Linked DNA regions of Homo sapiens. The protein of the gene in region 3 interacts with the protein of the main gene of each other region in a biochemical or structural test. Each region holds a gene or a part of one and is shown on either strand. Other genes may lie near its edges.

Region 1 (8,054 bases), on a different chromosome or scaffold from region 3:
CAAGGGCTGCCACAAATCAGCCCACTGAAATTGTTTATCAACTCAAAGGCAATACCAGCATCGTAAACTTTTATGTCATCATAAGCTATGATTATTCTTACACATATTTTACACATCAAATTCTGTTTTCCTAAAATTAGGACTTAGGGGTCATATTAACATTGAAAATCCCTGAAAATGCAAGGTACAGAACTCTGATTCTTAGGGCTCAATAACTGGCCCGTAATCGACATTCTGGTGTTGTTGACCTGCTTTTCTGTCATCATTCTAACTGTCCAGAACATTCTCCAAGTGCTTTTCTTTTCCTCATTACCATCAATTTGGAAGAACACACACTATCTTGGTTATCTAACCAGGTGGAGGACAGCAAAGTGACCAAAATGTACCACTACCCATTGACTACAGATCAACTTATGTTTCTGAAGTGGAAAGATGTATAATAAATGTGAGGCTACAAACATCGAATCAGATGTGGACTAAACTCTCAGTCCACAAGGGTGGATCCCGGTAAACAGGTGCCACGCCTTTTTAACTTAGATCACGCCGCATGACCACTGCCTGTGTACTTCAGAGTTTGAAGAGGAAGTGCAAAATATCTGAGAAACCATTTCCCCCAAGGAGCGGGGGGAAATATATGCATGATTTATAAACTGCCAAAATAAAGATCAGTTTTAGGATACACAGCCATGCTTAATGATGGGGATATGTTCTGAGAAATGTGGCATTAGGCAATTTTGTCATTGTGGGATCACATGCCTAGATGGTATAGCCAACTACACACCTGGGCCATATGCTAGAGCCTATTGCTCCTAAGCTACAAACCCGTACAGCATGTTGTGTACTGAATACCGTAGGCAACTGTAACACAACTCACTGGTCACTAGAAATTGTTTAGCTCCATTATAATCTTATGGGACCACTGTCGTACATGCGGTCTGTTGTTGACTGAAACATCATTAAAGCAGCACATAACTGTATGTTCATTTACACTTAAATAAACACGGACAGGGTAATTCATTAGAGAAGACCCAAATTGTAATAACTTTGTTTCTTGATCCAATGCCTTTTAGGTATAAAACCACTGTGAAAAATCATATAAACAGGTTTTGACTAACAATTCATAATAAATGACATTGCTAGATACCTCAACGCAATGTTTTCAGAGCTGTTCAAGAGCTCAGTTTTCCTAGTTCTCTCTCACTGGAATTTTAACTTATCGGGCAGTTGGCCACTCTTCTTACCCAGCATTATTTATATTCTGTTAAAACAAAATATACTGTTGCATAATTTTGAAAGCAAAACATCAAATACAAAATGGCTCTATTTGTGATGTGAAAGCATCTGATACAATTTCGTCTAGTATATGAGGAATGTTCCTTAGTAAAGACCCAGGAAAAGTACAATGTTCAATGAAAGCATACGTTCAATTTCAAACGTCACATGTTCGTCAACTCCAAAGTATCTGTGCTAATGAGGGAAGCAGCAGCAAAGGCACTCCCCACGTGTCTGCCATACTCACTCTTAACAAGGGTGTCGCGTTTTGCAACTACTTTCAAACACAAGCTATTAAGTTTTGGGTTTTTTTTTTTTTTTTTGAGACAGTCTCACTCTGTGGCCCAGGCTGGAGTGCAGTGGCACGATCTGGGCTCACTGAACCTCCACCTCCCCGGTTCAAGCTATTCTCCTGACACAGCCTCCTCAGTAGCTAGGATTACAGCCATGAGCCACCACGTCCATCTAATTTTTTTATTTTTAGTAAAGATGGGATTTCCCTATGTTGGCCAGGCTGGTCTTGAACTCCTGGCCTCAAGGGATCCACCCACCTCAACCTCCGAAAGTGCTGGGATTACAGGCGTGAGCCACTGTGCCGGGCTGTATTAAGTTTCCTTTTGTTGACTCCTACTGATAAATGGCAACCATCTCCTCTCAGACCAGTCACTGAAACACAGATCCCTCTCCAACCCTCGGCAAGACAGGGCTTTTGTGTTTAGATACATCCTTCCCTTGGGGCTAAAGGAAATCACTGAGTATTCAGTTCACACGCTCTCCCCTGGCGTGTCCTTCTCCTTTCAAATAACAGTTCACACTTGAAAAACAGCCAATGGAACAAAATGTTGACACATAACCTACACCGAGGAGATGGCCTTGCCACCAAGAAGGTCCAAGTAGAACCCGTTAAAGTGGATAGTTTAAGAGTAATCAAGAGTTTAATGTATTTCACTTCAAAATCCCTTATACGTGATTCTTTTAGTCCATCTGCCTTCTTAATTTCACTTCTGATGGCATAAAAACTAGCTGGCATTTATTAAGCAGACTTAACAATAGGGGAAATAGTCCAGAAATGTGAGTATTTGAAACAAACTTGAGATAAAAAATACACAAATTATTCCAAGCATTTTGTGTGTGTATAATTTTTTTTTTTTTTAAAGATGGGGTCTCAGTATGTTGCCCAGGCTGGCCTCGAACTCCCGGGCTCAAGTTATCGAGCCTCAAGCCTCAATCTCCACACTATCATGCCTGGCAGAAAGGAATACATTTAATGTCTAAATCATTCCCTACTCCCTCTTTCCCAAAAGTTAATAACACAAATACCACTGTCTCAGTAGAAACAGTTAGATACTAATGCAAGTCAAACTCTATTATAACCCACATCAACAGATCTTTTAATGAAACTAGACTTTCACTCAGTTAAACGCTGCTTAAAATAAGTGGGCCTACACTTAAAAGTGTGCCCACTAAAGGGAATTTGTGGTAGTGGATCTGACTTGTAACAAACTGAGTATGTTTTACCACTTTTATAAAGTAAATCCCTAAGTAGGAGAATAAAACAACAAAAAAAATTTCAAACAATGCCATTCTCCCTAAGCCCTATATGATCCCAAGGGTTATTCAATGTGACTCTATTGCTCTACTATCTCACGAGACTCCTGAAACTGTCAACAACTACGTTCTGTCTATCGAAGCCTCAACAAACAGGCTGAAAAGAATTATATATTTTTAAAGAAACTACACTTTTGCTCAGAAAATTAAAACATCTTCATAACTGACCTAACCAAATAGGATTAAAAAAATAATCTGTTTGGTAGGGGTTTACAATATGTCCACACAAAAATAATTACGTGGACTGTGTGTGGCAAGGCTTTCCTCTACTACCAGTCATTAAGAGGCCCTTACTTTCAGTGTTTGACAAAGCTACTTCAATTAGACTTTAACATATACAGAACATAACAAACTATTTATCAAACTATATTTAAAGTCATATGACTAAGTAGAATGTTCTAAAACATTTTAAATGAAGCTTTTCTTGGTTATTTTAAATAAAGATAGAGAAAATCTCCCTAAGATGGGAGGTTTTCCTTTGTGGAGCAATTTTAGAAACGAAACTATAATATTCTCAGCTGGGCGCGGTGGCTCACGCCTGTAATCTCAGCACTTTGAGAGGCTGAGGCAGGAGGATCACTTGAGGTCAGGAGCTCAAGACCAGCCTGGCCAACATGGTGAAACTCGGTCTCTACTAAAAATACAAAAATTAGCCTGGCGTGGTGCCAGGCACCTGTAGTCCCAGCTACTAGGGAGGCTGAGGCAGGAGAATTGCCTGAACCCAGGAGGAGAAGGTTGCAGTGAGCCGAGATTGCGCCACTGCATTCCGGCCTGGGCGACAGAGTGAGACCCCCTCTCAAAAATAAAGAAAAGAAAATAAAATTCTCATGACTTCGAACTTAGAATGCACATTTTTAACAGGACCCCACCATGCATTTCTCATTATAGGTTAAAAATAAACTTTTAACTTAGTAATCTATATAAAGGCTTACACAATCTATCTTTTTTTTTTTTTTTTTTTTTTTTGAGATGGAGTCTGGCTCTGTCGCCCAGGCTGGAGTGCACTGGCGCCATCTCGGCTCACTGCAAGCTCCGCCTCCCAGGTTCACGCCATTCTCCTGTCTCAGCCTCCTGAGTAGCTGGGACTACAGGCGCCCGCCACCACGCCTGGCTGATTTTTAGGTTTTTTTTAGTAGAGACGGGGTTTCACCGTGTTAGCCAGGATGGTCTCGATCTCCTGACCTTGTCATCCACCTACAGTATCAGTCCTTGCAATAAATACATTCTGAAAGCTGTATTCAAGAAATCGCCTGGCCTGAGTGCGGTGGCCCACACCTGGAATCCCAACACTTTGGGAGGCTGAAGCGAGCAGATCACTTGAGGTCAGGAGTTTGAGGCCAGCCTGGGCAGCATGGTGAAACCCCATTTCTACTAAAAATACAAAAAAAGATAGCCAGACATTGTGGCATGTGCCTGTAATCCCAGCTACTTGGGAGGCCGAGGCAGGAGAATCACTTGAACCCAGGAGGCGGAGGTTGTAGTGAGCCAAGATCGTGCCTCCTGCACTACAGCCTGAGCAACAGAGTGAGACTGCATCTCAAAAAAAAAAAAAAAAAAAAAAAAAATCACCTGGCTTTAAAAAATATATATGAAGCCCAAAATAACGACGTCTGGCCTATCATTTGCTCATTTAAGAGAACTTCAGAACAACAAGAGTACCTGAGATAATGTATTTTGTATAAGGAATAAAATACTCTTAAAAATATATATACATTGCTTGCTATCACCCTATTGCCACCCAAAGAATGTGTTTTATTTTTTACACAATTCTGACCATCCATCGAAGGGTGTGCATTTGGCAGCTTGCTGCTACATCCTGGTAATGAAGGGTGTCAGGTGTTCCAAAAGGTCACATCAGAAAGTATTACAGAAAGCCTAAACCAAACAGCTTATTTTAACTTGGCTACTAGGGTGACAATCTGAAGATCTGGTCACCAGGCTTGGTGGAATCCAACCTGATGACACAGCTTCTGCTTCTTAGGTACGTACAGTCACGCGCGGCGTAACATTTCGGTCAACAATGAGCCGCACGTATGATGGTCCCACAAGATTCTAGTGGAACTGAAACGTCCTGCCGCCTAGTGGCGTCTTGATGCTCCTGACCCTGTGCAGGCCCAGGCTAATGTTTGTGTCTTACTTTTTAAGTTTAAAAAGTTAAAAACAATTTTTAATATGAAAAAGCTTATAGGAAAGTAAGAATAAAAAGGAAGAAAATATTTTTGTATAGCTGTAGTGTGTGTTTTAAGCTAAATGTTCTCATGAAAGAGTCAAAAAGTTTAGAATTTTTAATTTAAAAGTAAAATAAAACGTAAAAAAGTTACAGTAGGTTAAGGTTAATTTCTTATTGAGGAAAAATTTGTAAATCAACGTAGTACAGCCTAAGTGTTGACTGTTTATAAAACTCGGCTTTGCTCAGTACTGTCCTGGGCCTTCACATTCACTCAGCACTCATCACTGACCCATCCAGAGCCACTCCAGTCTTGCAAGCTCCATTCACGGTGAGTGCTCTATACAGGTGAAGCACTTTTCATCCTTTATACCATATCTGTACTATATTTTTTCTATGTCTAAATGTGTTCAGGCACACAAATACTTAGCACTGTGTTACAACTGCCTACAGTATTCAGTAGTAACACGCTGGACAGGTTTGCAGCCCGGGAGTAATAGGCTGCACCACCAGCCTAAGGCTCTACCACCTGTATTTGTGTAGTACTCTCTGATGTTAACACGCACATCTCGGAACACATATCCATCTTAGTTAAGCAACACGTGGCTATGTGAGGACACATACCTCTTTCATACCCTGCTGCATTTCTGACTTCCTACTGTAACTTTTTAAAAACAATCTGTGAATTATGCAGCTTTCTATTTTTATTGTGAATTGTTTCTACTTTGGAGCCTTAGCACTCTAAAATAAAACATTAACTTTGGGCTGAACCCTTAACATTTTTTTTCTCTTCAAGAGCTGACCTTGGTGTATCAAAATTCTGAATAAAATCCATTTACTCAATCCAAAAAAAAAAAACCATGTTATTTCACAAAATGATTTCTTGTATCTTAAGAAATATAAAAAAGGAGCACACAGTGAGTACAAATCAGGATTATCATACCAAAGGTATATCACAGAAAAAGTCCATTATACATTCATACCGTGGAGCAGAATTACTTGAACAAAAGGCAAGAAATGGAAATGTAACTTGTCAACAGAAAAGAACTGCTAACAGACATGGATCTTTCACTTAACATAAAGTTACGACAACCCTCTCCTCCCATTTGTTTCTATATTATCTTACTTTTAGAGAACATTTAAGACATAGGCATCCTTCAGACGTTGCTATTAACACACAGGTAATCTGCCATTGTTATGGGTAACACCACAGTCTATAAGCCCAGTTGATGAGGTCTGCTCCCATCTTCACTCTAGATTTGTATCTTTTCAACTATACCTGCAATCTTTATGGCTACAGGATCCTCTGAAACCGGAACAAGCCCTTCTTTGACTTCAACCTGCTTTTCAGAAACCAGGGGAGATATGGCGGGAGGGGAATACTTAGTTTCCACATAGGCCACCGGCGAGGAGGAAGAGGGCTTAGAATCATGAAAGAGGCTGGCCCAGGACTTGGGCTGGCTGACAGGAAGGGTGCCTGATGCAGAGCCCGTGCCGTCAGCAGGAGGTGATGCACTCTCGGGTTTGGTTGGGTCCAAGTCTATGCTTTCCGTGGTGTGCAACTCCACCCCGTTGGTAGCTGTGCCCTCACCCGAGGATTCAAGTATTTGTCCATTAGCAACTCCAAGGTTTTCAGTAGTATCGGTACCAACGCAGGGCTGAGCCCCAGCTGTCCTTGACAGGGTGTCTCTGCCAGCCTCTGCAGGGAAGCAGGACTGACCAAAATCAGCCCCGGGGCCCCCCTCTGGCTGCCCTGCAGTCCTGGTGTCACTGCCGAGTGCTCCGGGGAAAGGACTGTCAGGCACAATGTCACTGACAGAGTCTGTGGAGTTCTGGGGGCTGTTACAAGTCCTGGGCGTAACTGACGGGGGCATGTCACCCATAAATTCTGCATCCTCTGCACTGACACTGTTCGGGACTGCTGAATTGGCATGGCCATTGACCAGGGCTTCTGTGGAGATACTATCATCGCCACCATCTTTCAAATAGCTGTAATATCCAGGTGGCCGCTTTTTCTTCTTTTTACGCTCCCTTTGTCCAAGACCACCTGAGACACCATCATTTTCCAAAACTTCCGCCTCCACATTAGAACTTCCATCCAAAGCGAGGGCAGAGCCTGGGTACTGGCAGTCGATGGAGCCATAGCTTGCTTCTTTAGTGATACCATCAGGGGTTATTTTGGAAGCTGTACAACCGAGAATAAATTCAGGGGCCTGAGGGTTCAGTGTGCTTGAAATACTGTAGCTGGGGGTTCTCGGCAAAGTGTCACTGGGTTCAATGACTTCATCGACACCAAACTCAATTCTCTGATATTCTTGTCCTGTTTAGAAAGAAAACTATTAGTTAAGAACCCAGTTCTACAAACTCTAAGTACCAGTAATTACTCACTTTCTCTTTGAAAATAAAAACCTTAAGTTCTCTTCCTAATCAACAAATCTATTACGTCCTTTACTTACGCTGAACAATTTGCGGAAAATGAAACAACTATAAAATTATTATTTAATTTGGGGATATGAAAAGCAGAAGCCTGTACTTATCTTTCTAGCTAAGGAAGGCTTTCAGAAGGTAGAAATTAAAATAAATTTGTAATAAAAAGCAAGTAATATTTTGCCAATTTTAAAAATACCCCCCAGTGGAATCTGACTTTCTTATAGCTGCCTTATGCCTGAGATAAAGGAATATGTATTTTGGACAACTTAAATTTTAAAAGATCATGACAACTAACTTAGGGACTTAAAACATGGTTAAATCAGCTTCTGTAGTTAACGTGATTTGATTAATTCCAAAAACATGAACTACGCAAAGAATCCTATACATACTGGATAGGAGAAATTAGAAAGTATAAATTTAAAAACAAAAAAAAAAGATGTCAAAAAAAGATTCAACAACAACAACAACAACAACAAAGAATCCTATATATAAAAGCGCACTTCAGAGCACTCTTCTGAATTCTCTATCTCTTGGTCTCCTCCGCTGGTAACCTTCAATTAAGTCTGAAAAATGGCCC
Region 2 (7,999 bases), on a different chromosome or scaffold from region 3:
ACCACCCCCTTGGTAGACCTGAGAACTGTGGACAGATCTACTGGCGAGCGATGAAAATGTTGCAGGGAGAGTCAGCAGAGGCATTTGTAGCTAAACATGCTATGCATCAGACTGGCCATTTATGAAGATGAAGAATACAGTCAGCTTTGTGAAATAGTATTGCAAGCAAGCCCCGTGGGCAAATTTGTATTGAGTCCATCTGTAATTTGCTCAGTGATGGCAGACAAGATGGCTGTCTGGTTTTGAGACACACTTTAATTTTATGTTAACTTGTTAAATCTTTTTAAAAATTAAAAAATTTTTATGATTGAGACTGGGTCTTGCTCTGTTGCCCTGGCTGGTCTTGAACTCCTGGACTCAAGTGACCTTCTCACCTCAGACTCCTGAGTAGCTGGGATTATAGGTGCATGACACTGCTCAGTTTGATGTGCTAATCTGATTCCAGTAAAGAGAATTGCTGATTTAATGTTGAGGCCCGATCTTCCACAGGTCCTAAATGTTTCCCAAAATACATGGATAGCATACGACTGGGTTTTTTTAAAATTATCCCAGGTCAAGCATGAGTATCTCTAATCTCGACCTAAGAGCCAGTTAAAATGAAGGAGAAAGTGGCCAGGCATGGTGACTCAACGCCTGTAATCCCAGCACTTTGGGAAGGCTGAGGCAGGCGGATCACCTGAGGTCAGGAGTTTGAGACTAGCCTGGCCAACATGGTGAAACCCCGTCTCTACTAAAAATACAAAAATTAGCCAGGTGTGGTGGTGGGTGCCTGTAATCCCAGCTGCTTGGGAGGCTGAGGCAGGAGAATTGCTTGAACCTGGGAGACGGAGGTTGCAGTGAGCCGAGATCATGCCATTGCTACTCCATCCTGGGTAAGAAGAGCGAAACTCCTTCTCAAGGAAAAAAAAAAAGGAGAAAGTACAGTTTTGTTGGTTTATTCTCATTATAAAAGATACGTGGTATGCATTTGTTCTGGAAAATATGGAGGAAATAGAATAGTGTGGTAAAAAAAAGCATCCTGTCACTGGGAGAAGCTTTCAGTGTAGCTTATTGTTACGTTTCACTTAGTATTGTTTTTCTGTGTCATTAAATAGCCTTAAAAACATTTAATGAATTCGTAACATTACATTGTAAAAATGAGCCATAATATATTTTACTAATCCTCTGGTTAGACTGTCTTTTTTTTTTTGAGATGGAGCCTTGCTCTGTCATCCAGGCTGGAGTGCAGTGGCTCCATCTCGGCTCACTGCAACCTCCACCTCCCGGGTTCAAGTGGTTCTGGCTCAGCCTCCCGAGCAGCTGGGTGGGATTACAGGCACCCGCCACCGCGCCCAGCCAATTTTTGTATTTTTAGTAGTGCGGGGGTTTCATCATATTGGCCAGGCTGGTTGCGAACTCCTGACCTCATGATCCACCCGCCTTGGCCTCCCAAAGTGTTGGGATTACAGGCGTGAACCACTAAGCCTGGCCTGGACTGTCATTTCTAATTTTTTTAAAAATTAGATAAATGCTGTTGATGAAGATTCTTGTCAATCTTTGTTCACATCCCTGGCCATTTCCTTAGGAGATTGACATCCGACAGTGGAATTACTGGATCAAAGGATACTGCTTTTAGAGAATACTGATATGTATTGCTGGTTTGCTCCTTCTTTCAAGCAATACATGAAAGTGTCAGTACCCTTACCTGTACTGGTGTAATTATATCTTTTATTTTTACCATTTTATAGGTGAAATGTGATATGTCATTGTTTTACCATACTTTGATATTAGTGAAGTTAGTGTATTTTATGTTTCTCATCTTTTTACATCCTTAGACTATTTAAAAATTTTTTTTCTTACTAATTTATGAGTTAATTTTTTTTTTTAAATTGGACAAGTTCTTGCTTTGTCACCTAGGCTAGAGTGCAGTGGTGTGATCATGGCTCACTACAGCCTTAACTTCTGGGCTCAAGAGATCCTCCCACCTCAGCCTCTTGAGTAGCTGGGACTGCAGGTGCACACCACCATGCCTGGTTAATTTAAATTTTTTTTTGTAGAGACTGGTCTTGCTATGTTGCCAGGGCTGGTCTCTTAAACAGTTGGGCTCAAACAATCCTCCTACCTCAACCTCCCAAAGTGCTGGTATTATAGGCATGAGCCATTGTGCCTGGCCAGAGTTTTTAAAAACATATTCAGAATATTAATATCTTGTTTCTCATTTGTTGCAAATAATTTTACCCCCAGCCTTGTTTGTGGTGATTTTTTTTTTTTGAGACAGAGTCTTGCTCTGTGGTCCAGGCTGGAGTGCAGTGGTGTGGTCTTACTGCAACCTCTGCCTCCTAGGTTCAAACAGTTCTCCCTGCCAAAGCCTCCCAAGTAGCTGGGATTATAGGCACCTTTTGTGGCGATTTTTGATGCCCAGAGGTATTTTGTGTGTGTATGTGTGATGTCTGTTTTTAAAATGCTTTGGAAGCTCTTCCTGGTGCTGAGAACAACTCTTTTTCCCCAAGCAGTTAATTTTGCCAACACTATTTGGGCAGTTATGTTTCTCTCTGCTGATTTGTGATGTTACCTTTATTATATATTAAATTTCTATGAGTATTAGAGTCTACTTTAGAACATTTTTATTTTAAGCTTTTGTACTGTTTTCTTTTTCTTTCTGGTTTTTTTTTTTTTTAGACCAAGTCTCACTCTGTCGCCCAGGCTGGAGTGCTGTGGGGCAATCTCTGCTCACTGCACCCTCCACCTCCCGGGCTCAAGTGATTCTCCTGCCTCAGCCTCCCGAGTAGCTGGGATTATGGGTGTGTGCCACCACGCCTGGCTAATTTTTGTATTTTTAGTAGAGATGGGGTTTCACCATGTTGGCCAGGATAGCCTTGAACTGACCTCAAGTGATCTGCCTGCCTCGGCCTCCCAAAGTGCTGGAATTACAGGAGTGAGCCACCGCGGCCAGCCCCTGTTTTCTTGTCATTTGTTTTAAAATAAGAAAAAAATTCCTCTTTTTCCTGTCCCTTAAGTCCTGGGATGTTTAACATTCTTAATCTTATTTGGCACTTTAATTTTACGAAAGAGATATGTAGATTAGGGAGCAAAGAGGATAGTGGTAGTCTCCTTAACACAAGGCTATAAGGGTGGTCACCTGGGGTCATCACATCCCTGTATCTGATTCTCAATATTGCAGGTTATGAAAACACATCTAGCTAGTACACCTAGAGTTGCACTGTTAGAAACAGTAGCTCCAAGGCACATGTAGCAATTTAAATTTATTAGAATTATTCAATTTATTCACATTGGCCACATTTCAAGTGCTCAGTAGGTATATGGTTACTATATTGGACAGTACAGATAGTAGAACTTTCATTTCCACTTCCACCATTAAAGAACGTTCTATTGGACATTGCTGACCTAGAGGCAGTTAGCCTTGGGGATACTGACTCCTGTGTAGGAACATCTACATATAGAACAAAAATAATATCGAATATTGTGTGTCAGTTTTATGCTAAATTTTTTCAAATGCCTTTTGTGTTGTACAAACAACACAGTCTTTGAGGGGGATGAAGGAAGAGGGTCTCATGTCCTGATGTTGACGTGATTAGCACACCTTGAGCTGGTTTGTTATTAGAGGTTAGGCACTGTGGGGAAGGCAGGGAAGGCTGTCTTTCCAGTTGGGCTGTTCCCAGCTCAGGCCCTGCCTATCCCCAGAAGCCACCTTTCGAGGCAAAATGGGAAATAATTAGGTTGTCGGTATCAGGCGTTGAGCATGGAAATACAGGAATCCCGAATGTTCAGGATTATTATGAGTAAGCGTCGTGGCCTGTATTCTGTGTCCACTGCATATTGCAGTTTGTGTCTTAATCATCTATCTTGGTTTCTAATGGATTAACTTCAAAGACGATCATTAGCTCAAGGTGGAGGTCACTGGGTTGCTCATGTGTCTTACCCACGCGGGGTTTTGAAGCTGGAGCACACCCCGAGTGGCCGAGTAGGGTACGCTTGGCGTTTCACACGCAGCTAGTCGTGCAGCCTTAGGATATGCACCGAGAGGAGTTTCCAAAATCCGTCTCCGAGATTGTTTCAGATTTCGCGCTGGGAGGGAGGGGCGGGCTCCGCGAGGCCGCGCGCCCCGCCCCCTGCGCCGCCCCGCCCCCGCTTGCTCGTGACACCCCCGCGCCCCGCCCTCTTGGCCGGTACCCACCCCCTCCCCAGGCTGATTGGCGCTTCTGCGGCGGATCCTCGGGCGGGCAGCCGGGCCGGCGCGTCACGTGGCCCACGGCGTCCAGGGCGACCAGCCGCGGGCCGCAGGGCATGGACCTTCAGGCCGCCGGGGCCCAGGCGCAGGGGGCCGCGGAGCCGTCTCGGGGCCCGCCGCTGCCTAGCGCGCGGGGGGCGCCCCCCAGCCCGGAGGTGAGCGCCGCGTGGGGGCCAGGAGCAACAGCCAGCCGCAGCCTGGGGCGGGAAGTCGCGGGGCCGGGCTGGGCGGGGGCCGCGGGGCCGGGGAAGCGCCTCTGGCCGGCCTCGGGCCGCCCCGCGACACGGAGCGCTGTTTGGGCTCGCGCTCGAGCTGAAAACGGCCAGGCCGCGGGGCCGCGGGGCTGCGGGGCGGGGAAAGCCGAGGGCGTGGGTGGGCGCTCTGGGTCAGCAGAGACGGCTGTCCGCCCGCTGGGCGCCGCTGCGGATTTGGTAAATGGGAGGTGACGCTGGTGACCGAGAGCCGGGGCCCGCTGCCAGGAGCCTGGGCGAGGGCCAGGTGAGGGCGGCGAGGAGAGGGACTTGACTTTACAGACCTGTGGACCTCTGTCCGTTGGTGGGGATGCCAGCTAACCCTGAGCCCCAGATGTCACATGCGCGCTCCCCCTTCTCCTTACTGAAACCAGAAAGGCCCTGTTTGACGCAGGGTTTCCAGAAACTTGTTTTCATGTAAGCTAGACAGCTCCTGGTTTTCCCGAGAACGTTACAGACCGTTATTACAGTTCTTACCTGTCCTTGTTTACAGTCTGTACCGGCTAGGTGCTGAGCGGCTTGAAGGTAGGAACCCTCTGTTAGGGCTGTTTGCACAGCCTAGCATAGTGCCTGGCACAGGAGATAGACATACCGACTGGATGAATGATGCCTCAAAGATGGTACTTAGCCAAAGTAAGATATGAAAAATGCAGCGACACTTACAAAGAAAATTACTTTGGAGTGCAGAATAGAATGGGACTAATTTTGTCAGGGCATAGCAGGAAAGGATCAAGGTGAGAGGCTGGTGGTGTCTGCAGAGGCGTGGAGATGAGAAAGTGCAGGGCACATGGCCTGGAGTTGGGTCTCAGAGCATGCAGAGAACTATGCTCAACAGGTTGATGGGAGTGGGAGAAGAGGGGACGTGCGAATGCCATGGCTAATTTTGTGCTCTCTCAGTGGAGGGCTGTTGAAGGTTTTGAGCAGAGTAGTGATTAATTCTGTAAGGCTGGGCCAGATGGCTGGATGGGAAGGTGGTTAGGAGGCCGTGGCAGTGGTTTAGGTGAGAGGTCTGACTTCTCCTTGGGCGGCAGTGACCAGAGGTTGTCACTAACTACAGGGAGTGGAACTGAATTATTAAACCCAGACATGACTAGATAATGAATGCTGATTGGAGCAGGTGCCGAGTACAGTTTAGATGTAGCAGAAAAGATGAATTTAAATTCAAGAAATGTTACATTCTTGCCACATGCCAGGTGTTTTCATAAATGGTGTCTAATCATAAGTCCCCTGCAGGGTCAGAACAGTCACCCCTAATTTCTGGAGAAGAAAACTCAGGCACAGTAATTGAAGTGATGTGTTCAAGGTCACACTCTGAATGGATGGCAGAGCTGGGATCAAAATCAGGTCTTTTATGCAGGCAGGGAACATTTCGTGATTCATTAGAAAGAGGTCTTGGAGGTCATAGGGTTTCAGGAACTTCTGAGTGATGGGAGCAGAGAAGCATTTGGTTGGCTGTGCGGGAAGATTTTCAGTTAGATTAGAAATACTGCCTTCAGTGCTCAGCATTGCAGAGGAATTATAAAGCTTCCCCCACCTCAGTGTGTTGGTGAGGAAACAGAGAATTTGATAGAGTTGTTTACTAGCTATAAAGTTGTTAAGTAACTGAAAAGGTAAAACGTGTACCTGGGGGTGGCAACCGCAGGGAACAGCTACCAACCTATGGCTGAAGGAACAAAGAGATGAAGTTGATTAAAATTTAAAAGCTTAGGGAAAAGGCTCTGCAGAGCTGAAATTCCAACCTTTAAGGAGAAGGCACTGCCCCAGCTGATGGTAGGGGGTCTCTGAGCTTGGAGGAGAGTCCTGAGACCCAGACCTCTAAAGAGAAGGTGCAGTGATAAGACTGGCTCTGCAAGAGTTCGCAGAACTGTATACTGGATTCTGTGGCCACTATAGGAAGGCATTCCTGCTGCCACGGTGAAGTGTCATGAGGTGATGCCTACATGAATAGGAAGGAACAAGGCCCATCTCCCTCCAGCCTTGCTCAGTTTAACAGGGCAAAGTAGAAATGTGGGTGGCAGAGTCCCAGCCCTGCATCACCAAGGGGAGTATGGAAGAGTGGGTGGGGTTGAGATGCAATAGCTGAATACTGGGCATACCCCAGATACCCAAGTCCTTGGTAATCATTTCTTCTTCCTGCAGGCTGGCTTTGCTACAGCTGACCACTCCAGTCAGGAGAGAGAGACTGAGAAGGCTATGGATCGACTAGGCAAGTAGATGGCAGAGACGGAAGTTGGGGAGACCAAGGATGTGAGGAGAGGAATAGTCCCTCTGTCTCATTTACCTTCTCTTTTAGCCAGTCCTCTCTGCTGCTTAGTGGCCTTCTCTGCCCAGTTGAACAGTAACCTCCTTTGGAAGCCTTGCTTGGAGCTTCCTTAAGGGAAGTCCTGAACTTTTCTTATGTTCAAATCCATCCTTCTACCGAGAGAAACAGCTTGAAACGGTGAAAATAGTACAGCAGTCTCACCTTATTCCTAGGGGATACATTCTAAGACCCCCCCGCCCCAATGGATGCCTGAAACTGCTTTTTTTTCCTCCTATATATACTATTTCTGATATGGTTTAACTTATAAATTATGCATATGTGATTAATAACAATAGTAATATAGAACAATTATGCCAGTATACTGAAAGTTACGTGAATGTGTTCTCTCTCAAAATATCTTTTTTTTTTGAAACGGAGTCTCGCTGTGTCACCAGGCTGGAGTACAGTGGCACGATGTCAGCTCACCGCAACCTCCGCTTCCCAGGTTAAAGCAATTCTCCTGCCTCAGCCTCCCGAGTAGCTGGAACTACAGGCACGCGCCACCACACCCAGCTAACTTTTGTATTTTTAGTAGCTATGGGGTTTTACTATGTTGGCCAGGCTGGTCTCGAACTCCTGATCTCAAGTGATCTGCCCACCTAGGCCTCCCAAAGTGCTGGGATTACTGTGAGCCCACGCTCCCAAAGTGCTGGGATTACAAAGGCATGAGCCACTGTGCCCAGCCCCCTGCCGTTTTTTTTTTTTTTTGAGAGGGAGTTTTGCTCTTGTTGCCCAGGCTGGAGTGCAATGGCACAATCTTGGCTCACTGCAACCTCTGCCTCCTGGATTCAAGCATTCTCCTACCTCAGCCTCCCAAGTAGCTGGATTACAGGCATATGCCACCATGCCCAGCTAATTTTTGTATTTTTAGTAGAGATGGGGTTTCACCATGTTAGCCAGGCTGGTCTCGAACTCCTGACCTCACCTGATCCATCTGCCTCAGCCTCTCAGAGTGCTGGGATTACAGGTGTGAGCTACCACGCTTGGCCCCTTTTTTTCTTTTTCTTTTTTTTTTTTGAGATGGAGTCTCACTCTGTCACCCAGGCTGGAGTGCAGTGTCGCAATCTTGGCTCACTGCAACCTCTGTCTCCCGGGTTCAAGTGATTCTCGTGCCTCAGCCTCCTGAGTAGCTGGGATTACAGGCGTGCACCATATCGCCTGGCTAATTTTTGTATTTATTTATTTATTTATTTATTTATTTTTTGAGACGGAGTCTCG
Region 3 (8,054 bases):
AAGTTCATATGTTGGAAACCTGGTTGCCATCATGGCAATGTTGAGAGGTGGGGCCTTTGGGAGGTGATTGAGTCATAAGGGCTCCATCCTCACAAATGAATTCATGCTACCATTGAGGGAGTAAGTTAGTTATCATGGAGGTGGCTTTGTCATAAAAGTGAGCTCTCTGACAGATGCTCTCTGCCCTTCCACCTATCTGCCATGGGATGACTCTCAGCAGATGATGGCACCTTGCTCTTGGACTTCCCAGCCTCCATAGCCATGAGCCGAATAAACTTTTCTTTATATATTACCCAGTCTATAATATATAAGACTACGACAACTTGATATTATTGATGTTGATCATAACAGCTAACAGTTTTTGAGTGTTAACCATGGGCTGGCTCTAATGTCCACTGCTTTATGTTTCACAGTGGTCCTAGGATCTGCTAGTATAATTATTACTCGTCTTTTGCAGATAAGAAAACTAAGGCTTTAAAAGGTTAAGTAACTTGCCAAAAGTCCTATAGTGAATGTGGTAGAAACTAAGGTAGTCTGCCTGTTGAGCCCTCATTCTTTCTTAGCCACTATGATCTGCTATCTTTCTTGGCTATTAGATTCCCAGCTCAAGCCTTCTGATATGTAGCCATCAATATCAAATACATGCTCCAACTACAACTTTGCTGAAACTATTAATCTTCCAAATGAAACCTTTTAGTGCATGGGTGTGCTGGCCTACATATTTACAAGCATAAGGGGAAAGTTCAGAACATATGCAGTCTACAGAAGAAATATTTCATCACTAAGATCAAGCCCTGCAGTGAATCTCTGCAGTCATCCCACTGGTTTTCATTTCTTCTCTCTCTCTCCCTTCTTTCCTTTAATTATTTTTATTTATTCCTGTGAACACCTGATTCAGGCTTGTTGTCGGGGTAAGATTATAATGCTATAGACCTGGAAAGGCTCTCATACCCTACTACACCTTGTTAAAAGCTATTTTTAAATGAAATCATTCACCTGTCATGTTTATAGCCTATTATATAAATTAATTTCTCACATTCTGAATATGTTACTTTGTGTAACCATTAAATGACCATTTATAGATTCACATATGAGGATTTCTGGTGTTTGATTGTAGCCTCCACTTTCAAGGTAATCAAATAGTCCCTACTCCCTTTGTTTTCAAACTTCAAATTGCTAGAAGAGTAAGGAAGAGAGGGAAGGAGAGGGAGAGAGAAAGGAAAGCAATGCAATGCAGTTGGATATTTTACCTCCAAGGCTGGAAAGAGGATTTATCTCCTTCTCCTACAGGAAGGTGGAAAGGTTTTCTTCCTTTTGTCTATCCAGATGATAAAGAGAGAATCAGACGGACTTAAATAACTCTATACAACTGAGAAACAGGGTCATTTCAGTATCTCAGAGTTTTGCAGACAGCAGCACCAGAATATAGTCCTTCCTAAGTAACTTTAATTTTGGGGGAAAATAATTAGCAAGACAGAAGTTACTTGGAATACTAAAAATCAAGAGATGATTTGAGAGGTCAGGGACCCCTCTTGGCCATATGGAACACTCAAAGTGAGGCACGCATACTCATAAAAGTGGATTAGATGTTGACTGGGTTTGGATGATAAGCACTTGGTCCCAATGAACTTCAAAAGTAGGAAGGCAATGGCCCCAATAAAGTAAACAGAGTGGCTGGTAAGCCTTCTCCCTGCTCATATACCCCCTCTTTCACTCTTATTTAGAGATTCATTATTCTGAGTTTTCTTTTCTCCCAAACTTTATAAACAAATGCACATGTACCAAAGGAGACAGTTTATTAAGGTGCCCACCACACAGCCTGGCCCCAAAATTCTTCTTATTATCAACATCTAATTATAATAGAACATGTTCAATACAAGAATGCCAAGTGAGTGGATAGCCCAACACTTTTTCCATCCCTCCTTTGGTGATTGGGATTCTTCTCGACACTGGTCAGCCCTGTAGTAAATCGATCCTTGACCCAAGAGTGCACGCCCAGGGAACGGCCATCCCACTTGCACTGGCTTTGTAGCAAGGAAGGTCTGGGTTTGCGTCCAAGTTCATCACTTACAATCTTTGAGATACTGGGCAATTTTTAACCTCTGAATTTCGATTTCTCTGTCTATAAATGATACCACAGGATTGTTGAGGGAATGGAATAATATGTACAAATGTCTGACCCACGTCAAAATAGCTCACAACTGGTCCAGTTAAAGAGTTAAATCTTCTTCCTACATGCTTATGACAACCAGCATGCAGAAGAACAACAAAATGGGCTTCCTAGTTTATCTAGGTTTCAGTTTTCTGTACCAGCATCTATTACTCCATCCTCATATTCCCAGAAAGGAGGAAATTACGACACCTTAAATGTGATACATCATATTTGGTCAATCAGGGGTGAAATTTTAAAATCACTCACTCGGGTTGCCCAAACCCATCTCTAGGTGGGAGTTGTGACTGAACAGGCATCGGTACCACTAGCTCTAGAATCTGCCCTGTTCTATCTTTTGAAATAAATTAAAAAAGAATTCTAAGACTCGATCGTAGAAGTTAATGATGGTGTCCTGACTGGGAGAAACGTGTAGCCCAAGGGTCTACTCATGACAAAATGGCTTTCTATTCTATTTCATGACAAAATGGCTTTACCAGTTTAAGACCTGGTAAAATAGGAAGTTGAAATAAACCTCAGCCCTTTAATAGTTAAGACCCCAACAAATAAACAGTGGTTTAGTGGCATGACAACTTGCCCCCTCTCAATCTGTACCGTGCTTCAGATAATTTGAGATGTCTATTTTGAGTGACCCTCCAGCACATGTGATTCTAGGTAAGTATTGGTGCTATTCTATATCAGTATTTTCTTGCTGACAGAGTCAGAGGAGCTGGCATAACCCTTCTGACAAAGTCCTAGCAAGGTAGGGTTCCTGAGCCTTTCTATAAATCCCGGCAAGCTCGCCAAACCCCCGGTTACTGACATTTCTGTAAAGCTGAAAAACATTCATGCATCTGGACAGCACCACTGTGGAACTACTCTGACAAATTGGATATTTTTCTGAAAACTACCACTGCCATTTCAAAGAAAGCCAGAAACACATGCTGTATTTCTTAAAGTATCTTCGTAAATATAACATAGAAATTTCAGGGCTGAGCCTGGAAAATAAGCATTTTCCTACTGTCAAGAACAAACTGAAGGTCTTGGCTGAACAAGACTTGCATATTATACCTGTTAACTTTCCAATTTCAAGAGAAAAAGCCCAAGGGTCTACTCAAAACATGATTAGCGTAAAACAGCGTTTTCTTATAGGAAAGAAAGAACAAAAGGAAAAGGAAAAGTTGTTTCACATGAAAATATTCTGGATACTTATTTTTTAAAAGTTGTTCCTAAAATTTTACAAGTGAAGTACTGAATATCAAATTCATATTTTGGAAAGAAAGAACACCAGCAATATAGTTCACACATTCTTTAGAGTAGCAACCAAGCCCGTAGGAACTCTAAAAGCGAGTTATGATTTCTTAAATGTTGCAGAAGTAAAAGTTTTCAAGAGGAACAAAAAAGGGGCGATGCTTAGTGTTAAACCTGATACTCTACTAAGCATATAGGTCTCCAAAGAGCTGACGAATGCCCATCACACGGTCCACAATAATGCTTTTGCCCAGGAGCTTCAGAGGATGAGAACTCAATGTGCAACTTCCCCCCATTTTTTTGTTTTTGTTGTTAAAGAGGCATATCTGATGAAGAAGGAAATCAGATTAGATTCACTCTTCACCAAGAAACAGAGCAACTCAATGGTGACAATATCAATTTTCCCCCATGTGGCTGAATTTTCCATTGCCTTTAAAAATGCTTAAGACTTTTTGTTCCCATATCAGCAGAAAAAGGCAAATCCCTTAATCAACCTAGTAGTATAAATGGCCAGTTAGGCAACGAGAGACTAAGAAAACAGTCTTCCTTTTGATTTTACACATGAATAGATGATGTGAATTAGTTTTCTGAAGATTATGTGAATTAGTTTAAATGACCTTAAAGGCAAGATGAAAGAATCTCCTTGAGAGTTGTATCCTCTTTGGAAGCAAAGTATTGTTTTGCCCCAAGCCCATCTCGCTCACTGAACATACCATTTGACTTAATTTACCATATACGCTTGTATTTTGGAATTTAAAAAAAATCAATGTACACATTTTAAATCATTATTAATGATTATTATGTAACAGGAAACCAGTGGTTTCATGGATCCTCTTCCTAAATACACCTAAATGAACCTATAGATGACAGGCAGCCCCCCAAAACATCAAGCTTTAGGTTTCTGTTTGTTTACAAAAGGGTTACTCCACAGACAGGCCACTTAGCTGTGTGCATAGTATCTTCTGGAAAGATTTATTTGGAAATTTTCCAATCAAGTAGAAGAACCTTCCCCAGAAACCTAACAGTGAGAGCTAATGGCATGGGCTGTCAAGCTCCATGGGAGACAGTGGGCATGCCTTTTGAGAACCCATGTTTTTGTTTGTTTGTTTGTTTGTTTTTTGAGATGGAGTCTCGCTCTGTTGCCCAGGCTGGAGTGCAGTGGTGCAATCTCGGCTTACTGCAACCTCCAACCTCCCGGGTTCACACCATTCTCCTGCCTCAGCCTCCTGAGTAGCTGGGACTACAGGCACCCGCCACCATGCCTGCCTAATTTTTTGTATTTTTAGTAGAGTTGGGGTTTCACCATGTTAGCCAGGATGGTCTCCATCTCCTGACCTCGTGATCCGCCCGCCTTGGCCTCCCAAAGTGCTGGGATTACACGTGTGAGCCACCGCGCCCGGCCTGAGAACCCATGTTTGAACCCAAAATAGAGAGCTACTGGCCTGGAAACCCAAAGGAACAGATGATATTTGTACATCCCACAATACAACTCACATACAGAAAATGCCTGGGGAAGCTAATTCCTGCTGTCCGAGAGGGGCAAAGAGCTACCACATCGATTGCTGGCCACCTGCCCTTTTCCCCAGATGTGTTGCTTATCTTTTCCTTAACAAGCCTGCTACTTTGAGAAAGAAATATTACTGTAAACCATATCACACACAGCTGCATCCTGCATGGCACAGAGAAAAGTCTGCATTTTGGATTTTTGAAACGGTATCACAGAGCAAACAGTCATTGACGTCACTGGTCTACAGTGTAAATGAACTTCTTGTATTATCTAATTTGGCACAGTGGGCCTTAGGCAATTATTGCATCTTACAGCGCTTTAGTAATTGCCAGCTAGCCCCATGGGCTGGGGGGACCTGCATTCTCTATTGATTTGCAAATAACACCCTTGATGTGATGACATCCATACATTTCAACTATTTCTTAATAATAAAAAAACACTAGATACAAAACCCACAAATAATCTGGCAATAGCGAGAACTTGAAACATCCCATCTTCACTTTGCTTGACGTGTGTGTGTGTGTGTGTCTGCGTGTGTGTCTTCAAGCCTAATGGGTAGGTAAAAAAATAGCATAGCCAAAGCTAACTCTTAAAAAATTCAAGAGAGCTATCTATCCAATATGGATATCCATACCCAGAGCTCCTCGTATCCTCTGTAGCAGTGCTTTTCCTTGTGGGGATCTGGTTACAATGCAGATCTGACTCGGTGGGTCTGGGGTGGGTGGGGCCCAAGACTCTGCATTTCCAACAGCTCCCAGGTGGTGCTGTTGGTTCGAGGCCTTTCTCTGAGCATCAAGGGGAAACCCCAGTTGGTCTGGGAAGGTGTGTGCACATGGGGGCCAGTTGTGGGTGGTGGCCCAGGTGCAGGAGAGGCGGGCAGTGGGCTCCATCTGGTACTTACCCTGCATCTGACTCTGAGGCTGAGGGTTAAAGGCAGTGGAGTGGTTCAGGGAGGCACGAGGGTTGGGCGTGGGGGCTGGGTGGTGTGGGCTGACCCTCATGGCTGTGCGCCGCAGCTGCTCCAGTTCACTGAGCCGCTCGGAAAAGGACAAGCTCCCGGGCTTGGTCTGATCATCTAGTTTCTGCCGATGTCCTATTGTGGGGAGCAGGGAGGGGAGGGGATGGGGGGAGGGAAGGAGGGAGGGAAGAGATCAGAAAAAGTATTGTGGATTTCCTAAAACTGGGGCTTTTCTTGTCTTTCCCCTCTCTCTCCCCTCACCCCAACATAGACTCGCTAGAGATATGCCAGCTGAATTTGGGGCCACTGTCCTCTCAGCAGAATGGGCCCCCTTTCACCGCCTCGGCCACAGAGTGCTCCCCCAGTCTGGGCCTTGGCACCCTCCCCAACCCTCTACACCCACTTCCAATGGGCACAACTCACTGAGATACAGAACTTGGCGGTGGTGGTGATGCCGGGAGGGAAAGAGGCGCATTAATTGTTGGCACATGGCCACATGCCAGGGGCTATGCTGTGGCAGCCAGGAAAGGTGGCCTCCCAGGGGCATCAGAACGGCTGTTCCTTACTGCAAACCCAGCCACTGGCACGTTTTAGAGGCGGCAAAGTGGGCCCCGCAGCTTAGTGGTAGGGCCCCTTCCAAGAGGAAATGAGGCGTGGCTGCAAACCCACAGCCTCTGGGGAGGTCCCATTTCCAGGTACACGCAGGGCATCCTCAGCCCCTCAGCCCCTCTCCCTCTCCCTCTCCTCACAGGCTTTTCACAAGCATTCCTTCTTCCCTGAAGCCGACTCCCCCATGTACCCCTAAGGAGGAGTTGACAGGAAGGCCTCGCCTGTGTCTTGTCCAATATTCCCAGCAGAATAGGCCCACTGGAGCCCAGAGGTAGCTACAGCCTATCTGGTGAGCTTCCCCAGGGGGCTCAGGACTGGTGGGATGGGATGATGGGCCCCTCAGTGTCTATATAGGGTGGGATGGTGGGCCCCTCAGTGTCTATATAGATAGCAAGTGTCCTCATCATGCTCTTCACCAAAACAACCGTCACCAGGAAGCAGCAAGCAGAGGCCACTCATGGGGGACTGGGGCCTACGGTTTTCTCAAAATGTCCTTAAACCAGAGCCAGTCCTGTCGTGCAAAGCTGAGGCTCCAAGGTAGGGAGGTAGCCACAGGAGGCCTGGGCCATTCATTTCTCTTTTAAAGACAATGGCCTCCTGCTGCTTCCTCAGCCTTATGGTTCCAATAAAGAGTCCTTGATCGATTGCACAACCTCTGTTCCCTATTGCCAAATGTCCCCAAAGCCAGACTGAGAAACAGCCTGCCCGCTGCCCCCATAAAGTGCTATTTCACATGCCCTGACCCAATCCTAGACTAGAAAGAGGCCCCCTTGATTCCACTCCCGCAGCCTGGGGTAAGAGCAGACCACGAGAAGTGCACTGTAGTCCAGCTCCCAATGGCTACAATTATAAAATTAAATGGTATAACTTGCATGATGGCTGCAAATCTCCATGGCTGGCCATTTCTTCCTGCTGCCAGGCCCCTTGGCACAGTTGACATTGTCTCAAATTCCAGACCAGAAAAAAAGGGCCCACTATATTGCAGTGATTTTATCATTAACGAGACCTGTTTGGCTCCAAAATGAGGAAAAACACTTAAGCATAATATTTATGTAGTTCAAATGCAATGGCCCCTCTTGTCATGTGTCACCAAGGCAAATCTGGACTCTGATTCAGCGCTCCAGCCCACAACAGGAGACTTGAACGCAAACAGCCTGAGTCACGCAGGCTCAGCATGCATGTGGGAGGCCTGTTCTTGGCTGCGTATTTTAAGCACCGGCTTTGTGGATGAAAGGCCATGGGGCCAGGTCTTGCAGCAACCCCCATCATCCCTTTCCCTCAGAAGTATGAAAATGTCTTTTTTCTAGAGCGCTCTGTGTTGGTCAGCCATGGTGTGACTCAGTGCCTCTGGATGAAGCCTTCCTTAGCTCCTCCCTCCTCTTATCTCTGCCATAGATCCTTGGCTTCCTGATGATCAAACTGAAAAATCTGCAGTTTTCTTGCAGAAAAACAAACAATTCCAATGGAACAACCATTCAAAACATAATAACTCAGCCCTTTAACCTCCTACCACAGTCTAATGCCTGGCATTACGAGTTGGGGTAAAGAAGAAGGCAGGAACAATGATTGTGGAGAGCTCT
Region 4 (8,054 bases), on a different chromosome or scaffold from region 3:
CCGTGTAGTTTTTTATGACCTGCTCTGGCTCTGGCTCTGGCTTCGGGGTCGCTCCTAGAAGAGAGAAGTACATAAGCAGCGTCCTGAGGAGCACAGGCTGGAGAGGAGGCCAGAGGGCGAGGAAGGGAAGGAAGAGGTCTAAGCTGCCAGGAGGAAATGCGAGAGGGGCCCAGACAGGGAGGCCAGTGTGCGGGACGGGAGAGCTCAGCGCCAGGCACAGAGCCCCGAGCTCCGTCGGGCAAAGCCTTCCCCAGTCCCACCGTCCGGGGACCCGGCTCAGCCCCAGGAGCCATGGAGGATGCAGAAGAGCAGAAACAGCAGCACAGTCTCCTGGGAGCCGCATCCCCGCGCACATTGAGTGAGGAACCGACCCCGGCGCTTCTGAGGCTGCGCGGAAGAGTCAGACAGCCGCTTCGGGCACAAACTACTCCAGGGGGCGTTGTGGCACCACGATTTGATTCAACTTGCATTACCCTGGCATGAACATCACAGGGACAAGGGAGTCTGGGGTCCAGCATGTACAGGCAGCTGCACACACGCCGACCGCCACACAGACACTGTCCCGGGAAACGCCTGCCACTGACTGGGAAGGTCTGTCACATGCAGACTAGCTCCTAAGTCCAGCGACTCTGGGGAGGGGCCAAGACGTGGCAGGAGCCCACCCTGACGGCCTCACTCGCTGTCTGTGCACACGTGCACGAAGCTGGAGGGAGAAGGGCTGCATCTCCATAAACACCGAACCCCACATCCAGTAAAGCCTCTCCTACGGACAAGAAGCTCCTGAGCTGGTGAGGATCGGCGCGGCCCGGGGCGTTCTCTAGGTAGTGGGAGTAGCAGAACCACAGAAGCCAGCAGCCAAGCCCGTGCGGGGGTGAAAGAGGGACGGGGAGCCCAGTGCCACCCGTGGAGGCGCTCCTGACAGGGGCTCCACCCCAAGGTCATGGTGGGGCTGCGGTCGTCCCAGACTCCAGGACCAGAAGGGGCTCTGGTTTGAATCCAAGCTCACGGCCTTCAGGGGCTGCAGAGAATTCTAAGCCTGAGGGCTCACAACTGCACCTGCTGAACTCCCTTTACACCAAAAAGGGCCAGGGAGGGGACAGTTTGGCAGGGAGGTGGCGTGGTGGGGTGGAGGCTGGAGTCGGCACGGTTTGTTTAATTCTAGTTCTCTTGCTGTGAACGAATCATGCCACCTCTGAGCCTCGGTTCCCTGATCTCAAACGGGAAAGACGAATATGTAACCAAGCTGGAATTGCTGTGATGGCATGGCTGCTGTGACCTGGAGGGAAACTGCTGGCAAGACCACACCCCCCAACCCCCATCCACACACCCCACACCTCCACACCTCCTCACACCCTACACCTCCATACACCCCACACAGCTCCACACACCCCACACCTCCACACACCTCACACCTCCACACACCACACACAGCTCCACACACCCACCTCCACACACCTCACACCCCACCTCACACACCCCACACTTCTACACACCCTACACACCTCACCCCTCCACACACCTCACACCTCCATACACCCCACACACCCACCTCCATACACCCCACACCTCCACACACACTCCACACACACTCCACACCTCCATACACCCCACACCTCCACACACCCCACACACCCTCACCTCCACACACCCCACACACCCTCACCTCTACACACCCCACACACCCCACACCTCCACACACCCATACAGACTGCCCGAACCCAAATCCTGTCACGGTGGCGAGAACGCCAGACCAGAACGATGGCCCCCAGCTCAGGGTCGCCCTCCGTGTGGCTGGAATGCCCTACTCAGGCTGAGGGGGGCCTTTTCCTTTGGAAAAGCCTGCCAACTCCAGAGCCATCTCCGGGTGAGCCTGGGCCTCGCCTCTGCCCAGCCCTGGTGAGGCCGGGCACAGCATCCCACCCCCGCCCACCCACCCCAGCCCTTGCAGCTTTTCAGAGCAGAAGGGAGCTTTCCATTAGCCACGTGTCTCAGAAGGGGCCAGCCAGGCGACCCACCAAGAGCGTGTCCTTCCCAGGTAAACCCGAGTGCCACAGAAGGTTGCCAGCCCGGGCTGCCAACGAGTCTGGCTCCTCCCCCAGGGCAGGGGAAGGGCAGGGCGTGCAGAGCCCTGGGCTGGGGGCAGGAGCTCGAGGCCCACCCCTCCCTGAGCCCACCTCCTCGCCTGTGGGCTGGAGGTCGGACACGATCGGAAGCCACCCTTGCCGCATGCCAGGCGCTTCGAGTATTTCCTAGACCTCGCCAAGCCCCTCTGCTAAGCGGAGGCTCCGAGAGGACCTGCTGAGATGACACAGACACTGAGGGCCAGCAGGGCCACGGCCACCCTCCCTGCCCGCCACCACGCCCACTCAAGAGCGTCTGGACTGGCCACAGTCCACACTTCCACAGCCCAGGGGTGGAAGCAGGGCCAGCACCCGCTTGGGAAAGGTTCAGAACTTGACCATCACAGGCTGCTCCGAGCAGGTCTTGCTGTAACTCCCTGGACCTGCTGTGGTCCTAAAGCCCCTTCTTCTGTGGCCATGCAACGAGCAGGGCAGGGGTCACCGAGGGACCCCTCTCAAGCAGCCCACGTGGCGGCCACACAGGGCTGGGGGTCAGGGCAGCAGACCTGGGCAGCAGACCTGGGCCGCTGTCTGGGGGCCTTTCCCGAGACACGTGCTGGCCCTGGCGGAAGGGACGGTTGTCCCCGCATCCTGAGCCGGGCGCCGCCTCTCACCCACAACTTGTTGCTTACAAAAATCACAAAGTCCTCAAGAACAAGCCCCCTCATGCCAGCTGTGACTGGAGGAGAGGAGCTGAACTCTGGGGCTGCGGTGGAAAGTCAGCTTCCAGGGGCCGCCTCTGCTGCCGAGCGGGGGCAGGGAGAAGGGCCACTGAGCCCCTTCCCCCAGGAGTCAGGGAGCAGAGAGAAGGAAGAGGGTCTGTGCAGAAGAGTCAGAGGCAGCGAGGCCGGAAGGAGGCTTAGCAAAGGCCAGAGAGCTTTTGGGAACAAGAACTACCTTTCACGGACATTTTCCTCAATCTCTTAACTGAGCCGTGACTTTTGGAAGCCAGACGGGAGGCGGGAGGGCTGGTGGGCTGGGGTGCGCGGCTAAGACACACAGGGAGTCCAATGGCTGACATCAGAACACTCGTCATGCCTGCACGGGTGTGAGAGCAGACACGCAGAGAGGGAGAGACATTAGAAGACTCCTTCGGCATGTGACGCCAACAAACCCTGCTCAGGCCAAGGATGTGACACCATCAATGGCCACGGGGACGCACAGGTCTCCCTGGGGACTACCCAGGCCAGGAATCAGAGGGTGGGGCAGCCTGGCTCATGGTAGCCCTGGCCCCAGAGCCCACAGGTTTCTATAGGAGCAACAGACAAGCCCGTGCCCTCAGTGTGCAGGTGGGCACCGGGGCAGGACCCGTGACTTCAGGAGAGCAGAGGGCGGAGGACGCCACTCCAGGAAGCCGCCCGGGGCACGGGGTCTCCTGGGTGGGGCTGGCTCCAAGGGCTCAGCTTCCCCAGGAGGCCCTGGGCCCTCCTGGCTTGGAGTTACTAGGCCTCCAGCCTCCACTGGGTGCTGTGTGTGCTCCATGCCCCTCCTGGCTGATCTGGGTGCCAGGGCCTTCAGCGACAGCGCTGGGGTAGGCGGGCAGGAACGTGGCCCCTGGGCCTGCTCCCACACTGCAGCATCCCCATACTGTGAGGGCTGGGCTGCAGCAAGGCCCCAGGCTGTGGCTCTGGCGCCCTCGGGCAAGGGTGGGCCTGTGGCCAGCAGCTATGCTGGGACAGACCGGCCACTCTTTCCAGAGCTCACCACTGCCGGATGCCTGCAGGGAACCCCACACTTGCCCTGGGGGACTCTCCTCTGACACTGCTTCCTTCGTGCTCCCTGATGACCCAGCGCTTCCTGGGACACAGCGTGTCCTGCTGGACGAACCCGTTCCTGCCACACCCTCGGCCTACCCCACTTTCCATAGTGCCAGCTCCCCGGTCCTCCCTGTCATCGGTCAGTTAGGTCAAAAGCACCTCCTCTCCAGAGAAAGGGGAAGCCTAGAGCTTCTTAGCCATCTCTTAAGGTGGCTTCCAGGGTCTGCAGAACCTGGCTCAGGAGCTGGGCACAGCCGGCTGCCGGGGGAGTTGGTAGAAATCCCAGTCCTCCTGGACCCCACTCCCCATCCAGGAACAGATGGCGTGACTCAGGGGTGAAGGGCGGCCAGGCCAGCCACTGCGCCCCCACTAGAAGAACAAAGCTTCTCAACCCGGCACATGTGCCTGGCTGTGGGGACAGAAGCGGAGACCAGCCACCAGCCTGGGCAGCAGAGCCGAGGTGGGCAGGGTGAGTTGCAGTGGCCCTCAGCAGGAGACACCAAAGCGTGCATCAGAGGACAGAGGTTTGAGCCCGGGAGCTCAATGCCCCCAACATCCCAAGCTTGTTCCTGGGCTCAAATGCGGTTCCTGTGGGAACTGAATGTCGGGTGGAGAGAAGGACAAGCGGGCGCGGGTGGCAGAGAGATGAGAGAGGACAAGGACAGGTGCAGTTTTCCTCAAGAGAATCTGGTGCCTCTGCGCTGCCCACGTCGTCTGGGAGGACCAAAGGCCAGGACACGTCTCCCTACCCAGGGTTCTCCGGCAACACTGCCTCAGCGGGCAGGCCTTCCCTGAACACTGCCTGACGGGGCCTGTCCCTCCAAGCCTCCCGCCCCACCCTGCTGGACTCCTGCTTTGCACTCCCCTCTGTTTCTATGGACTGTCTTCCCTCAGCACGAGTTCCACGAGGTCCCACCCGTAGCTGCATCTCCAGCACCCCGCTGGGGCAGTGCCTGATCCCTGGGAAGCCTGCAGCCCTCTGTGTTTGCTGAGGAATGAAGACATCCTTGGGCCACCACCAGCCCCCAGGAGGCCGCATGAGTGACACACGTGTCCTTTTCAATGCAGGACCCACTCCCCTGAATTCAAGTCACAAACACACAAGTTTCAACCCAGAAGCCTGGAGAGGAGGAGGGCTAGGGACAGCCCCCCAAACTCCTGACAGCCCCCAAAACACCTGAATAACTCGGAGGGCCACAGCCTTTTTCTCCACCCATCTGGGAGGATTCCCGCTGTCAGAGCCCTGAAGAGTGAAGCCCCCACTCACTGATTCTCACTTCCAATTTGCAGACACCCCTCCTTCTGACACCCAGGGCCAGGGCTGAGATCCAAGCCTCTCCTCTGTGCGCTCTGACCTCCCCAGCCTGGGTTCGAGCCCAGTGCCAGCCCTCACCAGCTGAGCAGTCCTGGGCAGGCTGCTGACACCCATCCCTGCCCCAGGCAGCAGTGTGAGCTGTGGATGGACCGCTGCTGTGACCAGGTGAGGGGTGGAGACCCTGGCTCCAGCCTCACAGTCCCTGCCCCCACCCGATAGAGGGACTGGGCTATGCCACAGCCAGGGGAGCTGTCACCTGGAGGCACTGTCACCTGGAAGCAGTGCCTCCAGCACTCAGTCCTTCCAAAGCATGACCTCCTGGTTATAAACCTCTCTGCAAAAAGCCTGTGCGCAAACGCTCGTCTCCGCAGCCGGGCATGGTATAATTCCTCAACCCACAAGCACACCAGGGTGACAGGACACTGCTCTCCAGCTCTGGCTCCGGGGTGCTGGCCAGGCTCCTCTCATTCCCTGCTCCCCTAGACAATGCTCCCCCAGTAGGTACCAACACTGGGCCTTGAATTGGGGGAGGCAGGAGTCTACACAGCCTCCAGGCTCTCCTATTTCCTTAGGCCTGAACCAGCTTCCCGAATCTATTTCCCCACAAGTAAAATGGATGTTAAAATACCTGCTTTAGCTCCAGGATTGCTCTGAGAGCAACGGGGACAGACAACAGGATGGACAATTTGGGACACAGCCTGGACAGGACCTTCAGCCTCAAGAGCAGAGGAAGGGGGCAGGTGCTAACTCCACACCCAGAGCACTTAGATCTGTGTCATGGCCTCAGAGGTCGCTCACTGTCAGGCCTGGCCACGAAGGCTTGCGAGAGCCCCAGAACTGGAAGGAGCTGGGCCATGAGGAACCGTGTGGGGGCCCCGTCTGTTTACCCACAACCTGTCTCCAATGCCACCACGGCCGCACATGCACACACGGTACACTGTGATTTCCCTACGGCGCCGCACGGTGACTTCAGTGGGCAGGGACTTTCTGGCCAGTGTGTCTTGCTCATTCTGTCTCCCCTGCCCCACTCCAGCTCCTCTCCCTCCTGCCCCCACCTCTCTGGCCGCTCCTTCATTTTCTCTTCAGTCCTGCCCACGGTCTCTGTGGCACACACGCTCCCACGAGGGGTCAGGGGCACCCCATTCCACCCAAGACTGCTCTTCTGAGGCCCACAGCCAAATCCCACTGCCCCGGAACAGCTCCAACGGCCACTCCACAGCCATCACCCCCTCCCAACCTCCCCCTAGACTCAGCAGCACTGAACCGTCATAGGCAAGAAGGCCCGGGGCTGTGTCTCAGCTCTGCCAAGGGCTGGCAGAGAATTTTTAAATTCTCCGAGCCTCAGTTTCCTCTAATGAAAATGGGAACAAAAGCCTCCACCTCAGTGATTTAAGGACGAAATGAATTCACACACGCCAAGCCCCAGGCTGCTCCTCAGTTGTGACTGGCTGCACTCCAGCAGGCCTCAGTCTACCCCCAATCCCCCCTCACAACCCCCCGCCTGACGGCTCATGCCTCTGAATGTTTCAAGCCAAACCTCCCCCTCCACTCCACTGCCTCGAAGCTGGTCAGGCCTTGGCTGGTGCCCCCAGGTCTGAGGTCAGGCTCTGCACCAGCCGCCCTACCTCCAGGCCTGTCCCCTCTCAGCCACTATGACAGCAACTCCCCTAAAACACCAACTCATTATTGAATTCCGCCACATCACCCTGTGAACAACGATGGCGCCATCCACCTCCTTACATACCTCGAACTTTCCAGAAGTTAGAAAATAACCTCAGCTGGGCGTGGCAGCTCATGACTGGAATCCCAGCACTTTGGGAGGCCAAGGCATGAAGACGGCTTGAGCCTGGGAGTTCAAGACCAGCCTGGGCAACATAGTGAGACCCTGTCTCTACAAAAAATAAAAAACTTCCCTGGCATGGTGGCATGTGTCTGTAATCCCAGCTACTCAGGAGGCTGAGGCAGAAGGATCGCTTCAGCCCAGGGGTTGGAGGCTGCAGTGAGCTATGACTACACCACTGCACACCAGCCTGGGGAACAGAGCAAGATCCTGTCTCTTATAACAAGAAAAAAAAAATGGCCAGGCACGGTGGCTCATGCCTGTAATCCCAGCACTTTGGGAGGCCGAGGCGGATGGATCACTTGAGGTCAGGAGTTCAAGACCAGACTGGTCAACATGGCGAAACCCCATCTCTACTAAAAATACAAAAATTGCCCGGGCGTGGTGGCATGCACCTGTAATCCCAGCTACTCGGGAGGCTGAGGCAGGAGAATTGCTTGAACCTGGGAGGCAGAGGTTGCAGTGAGCCGAGATCCCACCACTGCACTCCAGCCTGGGCGAGAGAGACTCCATCTCAAAAAAAGAAAAAAGAAAAAAAATCCTGCCACCTGTGGAGCTTCTGAAAACCCTGCTAGCCAGGCTGCTAAAACAGAATGGGTGTGGGGGCCAGCAGTAGGTATTTTTAAGGATCCTTAAGGTGAAAGGATTGCTTGAGCCCAGGAGTTCAAGACTTCAGTGAGCTGGGTTAGCGCCACTGCACTCCAGCCTGGGTGACAGAGCGAGACTCTTGTCTCACAAAAAACCAAACCAAACCCAAAACAGTTCCAAGATGTAAGATGTATGGTTAGTACAGCAAAAGATCTGGTTGGACCCAAAAGGTGCCTCTTATTCAAGATGTAAGAGTAACTACAGCCGAAATAGATCTATTAATTCCCCAGAGGGCCCCTTTAAGGAAATGTTTAAAGTATTTCAGGACAGGAAAGTGACTATTTAAATATAATGCAATTCAATGCAAAAATGTTAAAGGATGTGAAAAGGTCTGCACCCGAGCGCCCACCGTCATCAGGCCCACGTACCCAGAG

What was found.
Region 1: the proteins of RUNX1 (region 3) and USP10 form a complex in vitro, tested with the Homo sapiens proteins (one study listed by BioGRID).
Region 2: the proteins of RUNX1 (region 3) and COPRS form a complex in vitro, tested with the Homo sapiens proteins (one study listed by BioGRID).
Region 4: the proteins of RUNX1 (region 3) and DTX2 form a complex in vitro, tested with the Homo sapiens proteins (2 studies listed by BioGRID, with this or other methods).

What each region holds. Positions count from the first base shown.
Region 1 is NC_000016.10:84,743,946-84,751,999, reverse strand, and holds part of USP10 (ubiquitin carboxyl-terminal hydrolase 10), read right to left. Parts: intron 7,368-8,054; coding exon 6,327-7,367; intron 1-6,326. UniProt on the Homo sapiens protein: Hydrolase that can remove conjugated ubiquitin from target proteins such as p53/TP53, RPS2/us5, RPS3/us3, RPS10/eS10, BECN1, SNX3 and CFTR.
Region 2 is NC_000017.11:31,855,485-31,863,483, reverse strand, and holds the start of COPRS (coordinator of PRMT5 and differentiation stimulator), read left to right. Parts: upstream 1-4,239; 5' UTR 4,240-4,284; coding exon 4,285-4,383; intron 4,384-4,521; exon of another isoform or gene 4,522-4,663; coding exon of another isoform or gene 4,664-4,726; intron 4,727-6,618; coding exon 6,619-6,685; intron 6,686-7,999. Other genes in the region: UTP6 (U3 small nucleolar RNA-associated protein 6 homolog), read left to right, coding at 1-125. UniProt on the Homo sapiens protein: Histone-binding protein required for histone H4 methyltransferase activity of PRMT5.
Region 3 is NC_000021.9:34,828,602-34,836,655, forward strand, and holds part of RUNX1 (runt-related transcription factor 1), read right to left. Parts: exon of another isoform or gene 7,712-8,054; intron 6,001-7,711; coding exon 5,809-6,000; intron 1-5,808.
Region 4 is NC_000007.14:76,492,441-76,500,494, reverse strand, and holds part of DTX2 (probable E3 ubiquitin-protein ligase DTX2), read right to left. Parts: intron 3,159-8,054; coding exon 3,018-3,158; intron 55-3,017; coding exon 1-54. UniProt on the Homo sapiens protein: Regulator of Notch signaling, a signaling pathway involved in cell-cell communications that regulates a broad spectrum of cell-fate determinations.